Linked DNA regions of Homo sapiens. The protein of the gene in region 1 interacts with the protein of each later gene in a pairwise test. Each region holds a gene or a part of one and is shown on either strand. Other genes may lie near its edges.

Region 1 (9,417 bases):
CGATCCTCCCACCTGGGCCTTCCAAGTGCTGGGATTACAGGCATGAGCCACTGAGCCTGGCCTGTCTCCAGTTCTTTCTGCCCATCCTTGACATTTCTGAGGCCCAGGAGTGGCCTCTCTTTGTCAACATTCACAGTGAGTCATGACAGGAGTTTCTTTCCTGCCGAGTTACAGAGATTCTGGGTTCATGATGAGGCAGGAAAAACAAGGCCTGAACAGCCATCTTCTTCCAGGCAGAATCACAGCACAGAAGATAGGCAGACCTGGCCGGGCGCGGTGGCTCACGCCTGTAATCCCAGCACTTTGGGAGGCTGAGGTGGGTGGATCATTTGAGGTCAGGAGCTTGAGACCAGCCTGGCCAACGTGGTGAAACCCCGTCTCTACTAAAAATACAAAAATTAGCCGGGCATGGTGGCACGCACCTGAAATCCCAGCTACTCAGGAGGCTGAGGCAGGAGAATCACTTGAACCTGGGAGGCAGAGGTCGCAGTGAGCCAGGATCACGCCACTGCACTCCAAACTGGGTGACAGAGCGAGACTCTATCTCAAAAAAAAAAAATAGGCCTAGTGGTGTGGTTTCTGTGGGTGGTGGCTCTATCCAGACTGCCCACCCAGGCTTAGATTCTAACTCCTCCACCACTTAGCCCTGGTTGGCATCCTCACCCTTCAAAATTCAGAAACACTTGGGAAGGAAAATTATGAGCTTTTCACACTTCTAAGTAGTAGTAGTAAATCTGTAACTTACTAAATCTGGCGACTTATTGGGGTCTGGCACAATGACTGTAACTTTACATCTATTGGCCCTATGAAGAAGTGTTCTTCCCCCCTCTTTTAAAATACAAATATTTTTAAAATTTTCAAGCTTACATAAAAGCTTAAAGTACAACCCTTAACCTAGATACGCCAAATCACAATTTGCCAATTGTGCTTTTACACAAACACACACTTTTTTGGCCCAATTATTTAAAAGTAAGTTACAGATATGTTGATTGACGTTTGACCCCTAAATTCTTCAACATGTATCCCCTAATAAGGGCGTTCTACTACATAGCCATAATACATTATATGTAATAAGCAAGAAGTCAGTATTACCCAATGTAATAGTTATTCAAAATTTTCTGCCAGGTGCAATGGGTCATGTCTATAACCCCAGCACTTTGGGAAGCAAAGGCAGACAGATTGCTTGAGCCCAGGAGTTCAAGGCCAGCCTGGGCAACATAGTGAAACCCCATCTCTACAAAAACTACAAAATTTAGCATGGTGTGGTAGCGTGCACCTGTAGTCCCAGCTACTTGGGAAAATCACCTGAGCCTGGGGATGTCAAGGCTGCAGTGAACCATGATCGCGCCACTGCACTCCAGCCTGGGCGACAGAGTGAGACCCTGTCTCAAGAAAAAAAAAATTCTAATTGCCCAAAAATACCTTATATAGTTTCTGGTTTTTAAAATCAGATCCAGTCAAGATGTACATATTGCATCCTATTATATCTCTTTTATCAACTCATTTAATCTAAATAGAGCCCCTTGGCATGGTAGCTCATGTCTGTAATCCCAACATTTTGGGAGGCTGAGGTGGGCAGATCACTTGAGGTCAGGAGTTCGAGACCAGCCTGGCCAACATGGTGATACCCCATCTCAAGTAAAAATACAAAAATTAGCCGGACATGGTGGTGTGTGCCTATACTCCCAGCTACTCAGGAGGCTGAGGCAAGAGAATTGCTTGAACTCAGGAGGTGGAGGTTGCAGTGAGCCGAGATTGTGCCACTGCACTCCAGCCTGGGCAACAGAGTGTGACTCTATCTCAAATAAATAAATAAATAAATAAATAGAGCTTCTCCACCTATTTAAATATGTTTGATTGGTTTATCAATGATTAGATTGGGGTTAGATTTAAGTTTTTGGCAATGTGTGTACTTACTGCATGTCAGGAGGATATGATGTCAGGGTCTTACTATCCATGAATGCTAAATTTGATTATTAAGGTCATGGCAACCTGATCTCTCTATCGTAAAGGTAAATTTTTCTCTCTTACAATTAATAAGTAATCTGTGAAGTGATTCTCTGAGTCTGTTATAATTATGTGTTCCTGATAACCTTTCACACCACATCCTTGGATGATCCTTGCTTGAATTACAACACTGAGGGTTGCAAATTGGTAATTTTCTAATTCTGCCATTCCTTCTGTGTTTATTAGTGTTCTTTTTTATAGAATTAATTTTTCCTGGCCGGGTGCGGTGGCTCACGCCTGTAATCCCAGCACTTTGGGAGGCCGAGGCGGGCGGATCACGAGGTCAGGAGATCGAGACCATCCTGGCTAACAAGGTGAAACCCTGTCTCCACTAAAAATACAAAAAATTAGCCGAGCGAGGTGGCGGGCGCCTGTAGTCTCAGCTACTCGGGAGGCTGAGGCAGGAGAATGGCGTGAACCCTGGGAGGCGGAGGTTGCAGTGAGCCGAAATCACACCACTGCACTCCAGCCTGGGCGACAGTGAGACTCCGTCTCAAAAAAAAAAAAAAAGAATTAATTTTTCCTGTCTCTATCTTTCTCACTCCCTTCTTCTCACCCTCTTTTTTCTTTTGGGAATAACATTATGGACTCTTGTTTTTTGTTTGTTTGTTTTTGAGATGGAGTCTCACTCTGTTGCCCTGGCTGGTGTGCAGTGGCACGATCTTGGCTCACTGCAACCTCCACTTCCCAGATTCAAGCGATTCTCCTGCCTCAGCCTCCCAAGTAGCTGGAATAACAGGCGCACGCCACCCCGCCCAGCTATTTTTTGTATTTTTAGTAGAGATGGGGTTTTGCCATGTTAGCCAGGCTGGTCTTGAACTCCAGACCTCAGGTGATCCGCCCGCCTCGGCCTCCCAAAGTGCTGAGATTACAGGCATGAACTACCGCACCCAGCCTGGACTCTTGTTTTGTTGTTGTTGTTTTTTAATTCACTGGGCTATATGAACTCACCTTGAACTTTTCCTGTGAAAGTCCAGGAATCATCAGTTTCTCCAGGAAGCCCTGGTTTCTTTTAGAAGAGATGATGACATTCAGAAACAAAGATCCAGGGCTAGGTGTGTTTATTGCTACTGGGTGTCATTTCTAGGCTCTGTGAGTGAGCAGAGCTAGGAAATGATGGATAGGTGATTGATAGATAGATGATAGATGGACAATTTTCATTACTCAGTACATTTATTGTTACAACAGCTAGTCCCCACTGACAGGATTGCATGGTAAGTCATTTCATTATGGAAGTAATGCTCATTATGGAAGTGGACAGTAATGTAGGAAAAAAGGAAATTGCACAGAAAAGAGCTCTTGCCTACTCCAGGTCGCCATGAGTATACAGACTGTTGGCTAGGACCTCTGTGGCTGGGTTCAGCTTCCTGCCGAAGACGTCTAAAGGACTGGTTCTCTGAAGGGTGTCCAAACCAGAACTTCCCAGAGGCCATGACTCTGAGGTCAAGAATCCACATGAAGCCCTGGGCAAGGGATTCACGCTCTTTGGGTCTGCTTTAGGTTGTCTTTGAAACAAAGACAATGTAATCGGTCCTGCCTGGGTCCCAGAGTTGTAAGGATCAATATATTTATCAATATGTTTATTTTTAAACATTGCTAGTTGTGTCTCTTCACATTTATTACCAAATTCCTTCTCTTCTCATTGTTTTAAAACCACAGAGGGAAATGTCATTGCTTTATAATCTAGTTTAATACATTGCGCTAAGATGTCTTATTCAAATACTCTTTCAGGTTATCAGTCATCAGTGCTTCCAGATTAAAATTTTAATTATTTAAATCTTTTTTGAAAAATACTATTGGGATTTGGATTAGGATAGCATAACAACTATAATTAATTTTGAGGGGGGGGGGGTGCTTTGGGATAAGGCCTGGCTCTGTCACCCAAACCAGAGTGCAGTGGCACAGTCTTGGCTCACTGCAACCTCCACCTACTGGGACAAAACCAATTATTAAAATAGAAGAAGTTCCTATAGCTATTATCACTTGGGAAATTACACAGTTTTTAGCCCTGGCCAACAGCTGGGGACAAATCTAAAATGTATATTGCTTATTATATCACAGTATCACACAACCCCTCCCCTGAGTGCAAGGCGGTGACTATGCAGACGTGAGACATGCAGTTGCTCTCAGCTCACAAACTAGGCAGTGGTTTCCAAAAAAAATTGTTTTGTCAGCCACAGTATGAAGATACCATGATCCAGTTCATAGACACACAACTGAAACAAAAGTTTCACAACAATATATAATTGGTTACAACCCACTTAACTGTATTGATGTCATGACTTGCCAATAGGTCACAACCTTCATTTTTTTTCCTGTTTATGGAGGTAAAACTTAAGTATGGTAAAATTTACACTTTTTTTTTAATTGAGACAGGGGTCTTACTATGTTTTCCAGGCTGGTCTTGAACTCCTGGGCTCAAGTGACCCTCCTGCCTCGGCCTCTCAAAGTACTGGGATTATAGGCATGAACCACCACAGCTGGCCACAATTCACCCTTTTAGATGTGTATGGTTACATGAATTTTGACAGTCTTTATAAACACATTTGACCACCACCACATCATATTACTTTTGTGCCAACCTAATAGAATATTCCCATCACTCCAAAATATGCCTTGTGTTTCTTTGTAACCAGTCTTTTCCCTCCAACCCAGCCCCAAGAATTCACTTAATCTGATTTCTGTCTTTATAGTTTTGCCTTTGCCAGAACGTTATACAGATAGAGTCATGTACCATGTAACCTTCTGAGGCTGGCTTCTTTCACTTGACGTAATGCTTTTGAAATTCATGTATGTGGTAATGTCTTTTAGTAGTTCCTATATATTGCTGAGTCATATTCTATTGTATGGATGTACTGCAATTTATCTGTTTACAATTAGTTGTTTCTGAGTTTGGGCAATTATGAATAAGCTGCCATAAACATTCACATATGAGTCTTTGCATGGACATATGTCTCCATTTCTCCGGCATAAATACCTAGGAGTAGGGTCATTGGGTCACGTGATAATTGTATGCTGTATTAGTCCATTCTCACACTGCTAATAACAACATACCCCAGACTGGCTAATTTACAAAGGAAAGAGGTTTAATTGACTCACGGTTCCACAGGACTAGGGAGGCCTCAGGAAACTTAAAATAATGGTGGAAGGGGAAGCAAACATGTCTTTCTTCACATGGCAGCAGCAAGGAGAAGTGCCAAGCGAAGGGGGAAACCCCTTATAAAACCATCAGATCTCTTAAGAACTCACTATCACAAGAACAGCATGAGGAAAACCGCCCCAATGATTCAATCATCTCCACCTAGTCCTGCCCTTGACACATGGGGATTATTACAATTCAAGGTGAGATTTGGGTGGGGACACAGAGCCAAACCATACCATATGTCAAACTATTTTCAACAGCGGTTACCATTTGTCAGCAGTGTATGAGGTTTCCATTGTTCTATGTACTCACCTTCAATTGGCATTGTCAGTTTTTATATGAGCCACTAATAGGTATATAGTAGCATATAATTGTGGTTTCAATTTTCATACTCTCATGACTGATGATATTGACCATCTTTTCATGTGATTGTCAGTCATCTGCATATCTTCTTTGCTGGAGTATTTGTTAGATCTTTTGTCTAGTTGTTTTGTTTTTGTTTTTGTTTAAGTAGAGATAGGGTTTCACCATGTCGGCCAGGCTGTTCTTGAACTCCTGGCCTCAAGTGATCTGCCCGCCTCAGCCTCCCAAAGTGCTGGGATTACAGGCATGTGCCACTGCACCCAGCTTTATGTGTTTTTTAATTGGGTTATTTTCTTACTGAGTTTTGAGAGTTCTTTATATATTCTGGTTAACAATCCTTTATCAGATAGGTGTTTTGCAAATATTTTCTCCATCTGTGTCTTATTCTTTCATTTTCTTAACAGTGTCTTTTGAAGAGCAGAAGTTTTTTACGTGGATGAAGTCTAGTTTATTGATGTTTTTAATGGTTTGTCCCTTTTAGGTCCTATCCAAGAAATCTTTGCCTAATCCACAGTTGCAAAGATTTTCTCCTAGAAGTTGTGTAGTTTTAGATTTTATATTTAGGTCTATGATATGTTCTGAGTTTATTTTTCATAAACAGCATAAGAGATGGACCAAGGTTCTTTTTTTCCCCATATGGATGTCCACTGATCTGCATTTTGAGATAGCCAGGGAAGAGGGCCATGTGCAAAGGAGATCGCTGCAGGTGGAATGCTGGGTGCTGCCAGAGGGGGTTGTGCAAGGCACCAGGAAGCCCTGAGAGGAGAGCTGTTAACCTAGTGGAGATCTGGGGACAGTAGTACAGAGGTGATGACTCATAGGCTGGGCCTGAAAGGTAGACAGCAGAGAGGGTAGAGAAGGTAGACAGGGGTGGTCTAGGGACAGCAAAGGCAGGGCAGGTGTCAGCATGAAGGAGACTGACTCAGTGGCGTCTGGCGTGCGTGGAGGGCAGGGTTAGACATGAGAGGGAAAGAGGAAGGTGGTTGGGCAGGGACGGTACTTCAGGAAGGTCAGTCTGCAGACCAGAAAGGAAGGTGGACAGAAGGCAGGGAGCCGAGTGAGGATGTAGGGGTGCAGGGGGCAGGGATGAGGCCTGAGCTCTGGGAGTAGCTATAGGGATGGGTTCAAGGAGATAGTCAAGACAAACTGTAGGGCTGAAGAGTCGGGGCTGCTTCCCTCAGGCAGTTGGGTGGCTCAGAAGAGTTCACAGCAGAGTTAGGGGCAGAGGAAGGCACAGGTGAGGCTTCTGGTACCTGTGTTACTGGTGGAGGGTCTTGACTAGGAATTTTCCAGGTCCTTGGCGTTTTGAACAAAGTAGCAGAGGGGCAGACGTGGTAATCCCCACACTTTGGGAGGCCTGGATGGGCAGATCACTTGAGGTCAGTCCAAGACCGGCCTGGCCAACGTGGTGAAACCCGTCTCTACTAAAAAAAAAAAAAGTAAAAATAAAAAGAGTAGCAGGGGAATGAAATGCAGGAATGAAGCAGTGAAAGCAGGAATTAAAGTGAGAAAGCACTCCTCAGGGTGGGAGTGGGCCGGAGCAAGGAACTCAAAGGCCCAGTTACAAAGTTCTCTGGGCTTTAGGTACCCCATTTGAGGTTCTTATCAGCTACTCCTTATCTGGACGAAGGATTTAGTCTGTGGCTAATTAAAGGCTGAGGTGAATGGGCACCCTATGCAGATAAAGGGATGGTCCCAATCCAAGGCCCCCCTCCCTTTCCACCTGAGACATGGTGGAGTGGGAGGGTTGCAAAGAGGAGCGTTTGATCCTTTGTCACCCAGCTGGGGCGATGGCGTTTTTCCTCTTGGTTCAGCTTTAGGAATTTGGTGTTAATTGGTCTTAGGGTCCCTGCCCCCAGACCCAGGATTTTCCTTCTGATCCAGCTTTGGGAAGTCAACAGAATTGGCCTCAGATTTTTTGCCCCAGACCTTGGTGTTTTCTCTTTTATGAAGTTAGCACAAATTGGCCTTAAGTTCCTTGTCTCCAAACCTTGTTCTCCTGCCTCACTTGCAGAATATCCAAGTGGAGGTGGCCAGGAGGCATCTGGGAACACATAGGGGACTGAGGCTCAGTGGTGTTAGTTCATTACTACCTGACTGCAAACCTCCGCCGACTCATGAAACTCCCCTCGTGTCATGTCATTTTGCCTTTTGTAGCAGGGCCGTGGATTTGTGATGATGGACACTGTGGCCCTGTGGCTAGAAAATAGGGGCTTAGACCAGGCACGGTGGCTCACGCCTGTAATCCCAGCACTTTGGGAGGCCGAGGCGGGCAGATCACAAAGTCAAGAGATCGAGACCATCCTGGCCAACATGGTGAAATCCCATCTCTACTAAAAATACAAAAATAAATTAGCCGGGCCTGGTGGCGTGCACCTGTAATTGCAGCTACCCGGGAGGCTGAGGCAGGAGTGTCGCTTGAATCTGGGAGGCAGAGGTTGCAGTGAGCTGAGATTGCGTCACTGCACTCTAGCCTGGCGACAGAGCGAGACTCCATCTCAAAAAAAAAAAAAGAAAAGAAGGGCTTAGAGGACTGAGCTCTGTGACTGGATAGGTAAGGGGAGATCACCACAGAGAGCACCCTAGACTCGGAGCAGGAGACCTGCCTGCTAGCCAGCCTCTGCCCTGACTGCCTGTGCAACTGTGCTGCTCTCCCCAGACAAATGACCGGGAGCCATGACGTCATCGGGGGCGCAGGAAAGCAGGTGCTCTGCTGCTTTTGCAAGCAGAGAAATAAGAGTTTGGGCACCTACCCAGGGGTCCCAGGGAATGCCCTGTGGCTCCTGACCTCCCCCGCCTGTAATGCTCTGAGCACTTCAGCAGTAATGCATGGAAGAGATAAGGGTCTGTGACCCATGGAACTGTCCAAGTCCTCTCTGACACCCGCTTCTTTTCCTGCCGTGAAGGTAAGCCACTTTATAGATCCTAGGCCTGAAACCCAATGTTGGGAGGGAGTGTTTGTTTTCAAGAAGAAAGAGAGACTGAAACTAGAACATGCACATTTCTATCCAGAAGAAAACAGTTGGAGTAGACTAGAGTCCTACAAAGAGGGCAACAGGGAAGAAGATTCTGGACTGAGTAAAGGGGACCCACTCCTGGGTCCACCTCCTGCCTGGGCCCTCTGGAGAGAGAATTGGCCAGATTCAGCCCTGAGTCACAGCACCCTCCCCAGTTGCTGCCTCACAGCCATCTCCACACCAGCAGCCATGCCCCCAGCGGCAGCTCGCCCACACCTCTGTGGGACCTCCCCACCGTCTCGCAGCCCATCTGCTCCAGGCTTCTACTGACGATTTCGTATTTCACATGGACTCATTTCTCCTCAGACACTCCAGATGGGGAATGCCTTTCTGCAATATCAAAGTGCCCCATTAGACTGGGGAGGAATCATGAGGGGACATACCCCTGCCCCTGCCACAGAGTCGAGCATGGCAGCTGAATATCTCTCACACTGGCATGGCCCCCATCCTCTGGAGAAAGGAGGCCTCAGTGCAGTCAGCCTCTTCAGGAGGCAGAAATGTTGAGAAGTTCTCGCCACCCCTGCTGGGTGACTTTGGGGAGGTGTCTCCTCAGACCTCTGTTTCTCCATCTGGACGGTAAGCATGCTTGAAAGGTTGGGTTTTTGTTTGTTTTTTGAGACCGGATCTCCCTCTGTCTGCCAGGCTGGAGTTCTGTGGCGTAATCACGGCTCACTGCAGCCTCAACCTCCCAGACTCAAGCGATCCTCCCACCTCAGCCTCCCAAGTAGTTGGGACTACAGGTGCTCGCCACCACACCCTGCTTTGTTGTTGTTGTTGTTGTTGTTGTTGTTGTTGTTGTAGAGACAGGATTTCGTCATGTTGGCCAGGCTGGCCTTGAACTCCTGAGCTCAAACGATCTGCCCACCTCGGCCTCCCAAAGTGCTGGAA
Region 2 (6,819 bases), on another chromosome or scaffold:
TTTTTTTTTTAAGAGACAGAGTCTTACTTTGTCACCCAGGCTGGAGTACAGTGGCAAGATCATGGCTCACTACAGCCTCGACCTCCTGGGCTCCCGTGATTCTTCTGCCTCAGTCTCCCAAGTAGCTGGGACCACCGTGTCCAGTTAATTTTTTATTTTTTGTAGAGATAGTGTCTCGCTTTGTTGCCCAGGCTGGTCTCGAACTCCTGGCCTCAAGTGATCCTCCCACCTCAGCCTCCCAAAGCGCTGGGATAACTTACAGTTTACCTGTTCAGGGGAACTTTTAAGATTCAGGGGAGACACCTTGAGCCATGGAGACAGCAACAATGAGTGCAGCAGCCTGTAGTACTGTGAGACTCCCACTCCCATGTCAGCCAGAACTACACTGTTATCTGTGAGGTGTGAAGCTTTATATTTTATATTTTGAAGTTTCTGCCTAAGACTTAACAACACTGACATAGGTCGTGCTGGGGCAGCCTTACTCTTAGAATGAAGAGGGAGCAGTGTGAGAAAGCAAAGTGTGCATTTTTCCATGTATCACTTGGTAGAGCTGTAGACACAAACTGATCACTCAGCTTCAATTTCATTACAACTGCTGTTTCTATGCTTAAGTATGTGTGTCCCTTGATTTACATCAGAACCATGGATCCTAACCTCAACAGGCTGATCTAGATCAACCAGACAGCCAGGTCATAAATACATCCAGAGTACTCTATTACCTCCTTCCTTCCCTCTTTCCTTCTAAGGGAGAAGGTTATATACAGACAGGAAAAAAAGAGGACGTAGACTAGCTACGATAGCCCAGATACTATTAGGTACTTTATGTAAACAAATCACCTTTTATCCTCACAATAACCCTAGAGAGTAGGTGTTATTATCTATATGTGACAGACAGGATAACTTAAGCTTACAGAGAGGTCACGTCCCAGATTGCATAGCTTGTAAGTGATTGGTACCTGTTAACTAACTCCGAGGCTGCTGGCTCTTCCATTACAACACAGCCTTTATACCACCCTAAATATGTTGTGTTGAGGTTGCTATCTCCTTTAAGAAGGCTTAGGGTGACTGGTGTTAAAACTGTATGTAGACAGTAGCCAAGGCACTGGGATCCACACTGGACAGTGACGTAGGGAAAGGTTGGAGTAATATTGGTAACGTTAATGCTAATGAATGAGTGCCATATCTCTAGACCAGAGATTCAGCCACTAAGGGGAATGAAACTTAAACAGGGAGTCAGGAAACCTGGCTCTGGGCCTAGTTCTACCTATGTTAAGCCTTGGTTAGTCATTTTACTTCTCTAGAATCCACTTCTTCATCTGTTGGCAGAAATGATGCCTAAAATTCTGATTTCCATGCCTTCTATTTGGCCAGTTGACAACTTAAGGTAACATATTCCTTGTTTTTAAGGAGTTTAGCAGGAGAATGCATTCTGGTAGATTGCCATTTTTCTACAAAGCCTGCCTTTATTGGCCTTAGCAGGCTTCCACAGGGAGAGCTGTAATGGTAAGTTAGTCTACTCCTGTCTCTCTAGGGTCCTTCCCTCTGAAGTTGAAGTATTGGAGTCCATCTATCTAGATGAACTACAGGTGATTAAAGGAAATGGCAGGTATGTATTCAACCAGTGGTGGGCAGGAGTCCCCCTAGTAATGAGGAGAGGTTCTATGCTGAATTTGGGTCTTAAGACATTGTGAGCCTTGATTCAGAGATAATATTTCTCTTGTGTAGACAAAAGCTATTCCTTTAATCCTACCCCAAAAGAAAGAGTCCAATGTGTACTTCCTTTGCCCACTTCACTGTCTCAGCCCCATCCTCCCCAGCCCCCAAGCCCCTACCCAGTCACATCTGCGTGTCCACTTGATCCACCTGCAGAACTTCACCATGGGAGATCTACATCACTTTGCATCCTGCCACTGCAGAGGACCAGGATTCACAGTATGTCTGCTTCACTCTGGTGCTTCAGGTCCCAGCAGAGGTGAAGCCCCTACTGTGTGGCAGCAAAGGGAGGAAGGGGAGAGTCCCTGGGGTGGACCGCTTCAGCAGTAACTTGTTATTTGCCCCCACTAGTATCCCCATGAGGTGCCACAGATCTCTATCCGAAATCCCCGAGGACTTTCAGATGAACAGATCCACACGTAAGTTGAACCTGTCAGAACAGGGAAAACTCAGCTACAGCTTTGCCCGGTGACAGAAATGGGCAGGTCTAATATTTGGTTTGCCCTCTTCCTCCAGGATCTTACAGGTGCTGGGCCACGTGGCCAAGGCTGGGCTGGGCACTGCCATGCTGTATGAACTCATTGAGGTAAGAGGTGCGCTAGTCTGAGATATGTTCTTTCCTTCAAGCTAGAGCAGTTTCTAGCTGTAAAAGGGAAACCATGGGCCTAGAATCTTAAACGGATCTGGAGTCATTAGGTAAGGCCTAAATTAATCCAGAGAAATGAGACTCTTCTATTTGAAAAACTTCCCAAAAGACAGTTCAGTAGCTTCTCCAAGTTGCCTATGCCAGCATCTTGACAGAAAATGACTTTTCCTCTTCACCTTGAATTTTTCTTGCATCAGTTTCAGTATATGTCTTGTTCTCTTGGCACTGGCAACTGAAAGTGGCAAAAGATACGCATCTTGCTTGGGGGCGTCTTAGCCATAAATGAACATTTGAAGGCTAGACTGCCATTGGACCTGACTAGAAAAAGTCATGGTTGGCCAGGCACGGTGGCGGGCATTTGTAATCCCAGTTACTTGGGAGGCTGAGGAAGGAGAATCGCTTGAACCCGGGAGGCGGAGATTGCAGGGAGCCAAGATCATGCACTGCACTCCAGCCTGGGCAACAGAGTGAGACTCCATCTCAAAAAAAAAAAAAAGAAAAAGTCATGGTTCCTTTACTGAAAGAGCTTATACACTGCTTGATGAAACAACCCACATGAAGCAACACCTGAAGCTCCAATATACACAGAAAACTTTTATTGTTTGAGATTAAAAATATAAAATTAAGTACAGTTTTATTTTCCCCTAGTTTGTTTATTTATTAATTTTAATTTTTTTTTTTTTTTTGAGACAGTCTTAGTCTGTCACCCAGGCTGGAGTGCAGTGGTGTGATCTCAGCTCACTGCAACCTCCGCCTCCCAGGTTCAAGTGATTCTCCTGCCTCAGCCTCCCAGATAGCTAGGATCACAGGCATGTGCCACCACACCCAGCTAATTTTATATTTTTAGTAGAGATGGGGTTTCTCCATGTTGGCCAGGCTGGTCTTGAACTCCTGACCTCAGGTTATCCACCTGCCTCAGCCTCCCAAAGTGCTGGGATTATAGGCATGAGCCACCACGCCCAGCCTCTCTTAGTTTAAATTTTTAAGAAAAATGTTCAGAATAGAATGAAGGTGGGTGGCTGAGAGTCAAAGAGAGTGGGTTTGATAGGCCACCGTAGCAGTCCTAGGTCAGGCCTCCACAATGCAGCCTTGGACTTTGTGGAATTCCAGAGTACACTATTAGCTATTCAAATAACAATTCAAATGCATAGTTCACAGCCCAACTCAATGCCTTGTGAATTCTCTGTCCATTTGGGTTGTCCATGCCTTGTCATGCTTTCTGAAAGCTGACTTAGAACAAACACATTGCCCCATGGGGGAGTGATATTGAAGGGGGCTAATCAAGAAAGGCCTCCCAGAAGATAAATTTTAATTGAACATTTTTTTTCTCAAGGTGTATTATTTTCATCTCCAAGATATATTAAAAGTGACTTAATGAAAGGAAAAACAATTAGGTTGAATTTTGAAACCAGGAAGATCAAATTTTGGGGGAGGGGCAGAGATGTGGAGAAGGATTGATTCCCAGCAGAGGGAGCGTCACCAAGCCAGAAATGCATAAACACAAGGTAACAAACTGGCCTGCTAGGAGCCAAGTCTAGCCAGTCACTCCTAGGAGTAGTAGACAGGCCTTGCTCACCGTTCTTCCCCCTACCCCCGTTTAATCAGTGTCTTCTCTCCTCAGAAAGGGAAGGAAATTCTCACAGATAACAACATCCCTCATGGCCAGTGTGTCATCTGCCTCTATGGTTTCCAGGTGGGTTTCTCTCTTGGGACCTGGCATTCTGTTTGGGACCAGCAGATGAGGGCTGTGAGAGAGCTCTGACTTAGTGCCCTACATCTGCCTTCCCTCTAGGAGAAGGAGGCCTTTACCAAAACACCCTGTTACCACTACTTCCACTGCCACTGCCTTGCTCGGTACATCCAGCACATGGAGCAAGAGCTGAAGGCACAAGGACAGGAGCAGGAACAGGAACGGCAGCATGCTACAACCAAACAGGTAGACCTCACTGCACCTGCACACTCATCTGACACCCTTAGGCACAGCCTTTCACAAACTTTTCCATCTCTCCACTCCAGTGGCTCTTCACTTTTTCAGGGTCATAGATACCCTTGAGATTAATGAACTCTTACCTCTGTCCAGAATAAAGGGCATCCTTTTTTTTTTTTTTTGAGATGGAGTCTCACTCTGCCACCCAGGCTGGAGTGCAGTAGCACAATCTTGGCTCACTGCAACCTCCGCCTCCTGGGTTCAAGCAATCCTTCTGCCTCAGCCTCCCGAGTAGCTGGGATTATAGGTGCGAGCCACCACGCCCAGCTGATTTTTGTATTTTCAGTAGAGACGGGGTTTCACCATGTTGGCCAGGCTGGTCTCAAACTCATGACCTCAAGTGATCCCGCCCGCCTCGGCCTCCCAAAGTGCTGGGATTACAGGCGCGAGCCACCGTGCCTGGCCAGGGCATCCTTATATACACTTACATATTGCATGCAGTTTCGGGGGGTTCCCAGATCTCTAGTTAGACAACCCGTGCTCTGTCCCAACTCACTGCTGAACCGGTGTCCCTGTGCCCTTTAGTCCCAGCCCTCTGCAGATTAGGTTGGCTGATGGGTCAGCACCAGGGGGCATCCTGGGCTGTGACACAGGCATATGATTTTTCTCTTTTTTAGAAGGCAGTCGGTGTGCAGTGTCCAGTGTGCAGAGAGCCCCTCGTGTATGATCTTGCCTCACTGAAAGCAGCCCCTGAACCCCAACAGCCCATGGTAAGGAGACTTTTTTCCAATCTGAGCCAGGAGTAATGGTATTTTCTAAAGAGTAAGGAATGGCATCTTGTCTGTGTCAAATGGGATCTCTGAAATTGGGCTTGAACTGCCTAGGACCTCTCTGCAAAGCCACATCCCCCACTGGCGGGAGCCTAAGACTCTGGGAGCCCAGACCTGAGGGGCAAAACCAGTGCAGATCTCCTGAGGCAGCCTGGGAGGAGTAGAGGTTTGAGTCAGCCTTCTGCTGTTCATTATTTCCTCTCTGCCATTCTTCCTTCCAGGAGCTGTACCAGCCCAGTGCAGAGAGCTTGCGCCAGCAAGAAGAACGCAAGCGGCTCTACCAGAGGCAGCAGGAGCGGGGGGGAATCATTGACCTTGAGGCTGAGCGAAACCGATACTTCATCAGCCTTCAGCAGGTGAGGGAAGGGCTTCCCAGTTGTCCTGTAATGCCACCAACCTTTCTACAAACCCCAATCAGCCATGGCCCCAGAGTGAGCTTTGTTCTAACCAGGAAGATGATAGGCTGATCGTGGTCAGCCCAGATAGTAGGAGAGGGGCCTGTAGTTCCCCACCTTGAGGAACTGCATCTCCCTCACTGCATCTTGTCACTTATTTCTAGCCTCCTGCCCCTGCGGAACCTGAGTCAGCTGTAGATGTCTCCAAAGGATCCCAACCACCCAGCACCCTTGCAGCAGAACTATCCACCTCACCAGCCGTCCAATCCACTTTGCCACCTCCTCTGCCTGTGGCGACCCAGCACATATGTGAGAAGATTCCAGGGACCAGGTCAAATCAGCAAAGGTTGGGCGAAACCCAGAAAGCTATGCTAGATCCCCCCAAGCCCAGTCGAGGTCCCTGGCGACAGCCCGAACGGAGGCACCCAAAGGGAGGGGAGTGCCACGCCCCTAAAGGTACCCGTGACACCCAGGAACTGCCACCTCCTGAGGGGCCCCTCAAGGAGCCCATGGACCTAAAGCCAGAACCCCATAGCCAAGGAGTTGAAGGTCCTCCACAAGAGAAGGGGCCTGGCAGCTGGCAGGGGCCCCCACCCCGCAGGACTCGGGACTGTGTTCGCTGGGAGCGCTCTAAAGGCCGGACACCCGGTTCTTCCTACCCTCGCCTGCCTCGGGGCCAGGGAGCATACCGGCCTGGTACTCGGAGGGAGTCCCTGGGCCTGGAATCTAAGGATGGTTCCTAGCAGGACTTGGTGGGGGGAACAGGGAATTGGGGATGGGAGGGAGGCAATAAAGATATTTGGCCTTCTTTGGCTTTCTTTGCTTAGCAGCGCCTAGCCTGTGAGGAATGGCTCTTTTTCTCAATTCCTAATAAGATTGGGGTGTGGCAGAGCAGCCCCCAACTTTGCTCTGAAGTCTGTTCTCCGAAGAGCTGGGTAAAGAGGGTCTGACATCTCATCAGCTAGTATAGTGAGTTTCAGGGAAAACTAGTGGGATGTCAGCATGTAAGCAGAGTCCTTAGGACCCACCGTTAACAACTCATTGTGTACACACCCATGCCTGTCCATTATTTATATACATAGAATGCCTTTAGGTAGAGGAATTTAGTTTCCTGTTTTGTGTCTCATCTCTTTATCTTAGGCTATGCCCCATCATTTGTATATGTGGTTGCCTGACTGACCCCTGTAGGCACCTGTGATTGCAGCCCGTCTTACTCAAGTACCAATCCAGTGATGAAGGGAGATGAGAGAGCAGAGTAGTGTGGCAGATGTTTATTGAGCTAGAGGAGGAGAGCTGAGCTGAGCCCAG

What was found. The genes of interacting proteins can lie anywhere in the genome.
Region 2: the proteins of KCTD21 (region 1) and RNF25 interact in binary tests that used the Homo sapiens proteins (3 or more experiments, as listed by UniProt).

Annotation. Positions count from the first base shown.
Region 1 is NC_000011.10:78,176,740-78,186,156, reverse strand, and holds part of KCTD21 (BTB/POZ domain-containing protein KCTD21), read left to right. Parts: intron 1-8,171; exon of another isoform or gene 8,172-9,026; coding exon of another isoform or gene 9,027-9,105; intron 9,106-9,417. UniProt on the Homo sapiens protein: Probable substrate-specific adapter of a BCR (BTB-CUL3-RBX1) E3 ubiquitin-protein ligase complex mediating the ubiquitination and subsequent proteasomal degradation of target proteins. Promotes the ubiquitination of HDAC1.
Region 2 is NC_000002.12:218,663,392-218,670,210, reverse strand, and holds the end of RNF25 (E3 ubiquitin-protein ligase RNF25), read left to right. Parts: intron 1-1,531; coding exon 1,532-1,606; intron 1,607-1,869; coding exon 1,870-1,972; intron 1,973-2,064; coding exon 2,065-2,132; intron 2,133-2,229; coding exon 2,230-2,299; intron 2,300-3,980; coding exon 3,981-4,052; intron 4,053-4,151; coding exon 4,152-4,295; intron 4,296-4,963; coding exon 4,964-5,056; intron 5,057-5,337; coding exon 5,338-5,472; intron 5,473-5,675; coding exon 5,676-6,254; 3' UTR 6,255-6,319; downstream 6,320-6,819. UniProt on the Homo sapiens protein: E3 ubiquitin-protein ligase that plays a key role in the RNF14-RNF25 translation quality control pathway, a pathway that takes place when a ribosome has stalled during translation, and which promotes ubiquitination and degradation of translation factors on stalled ribosomes.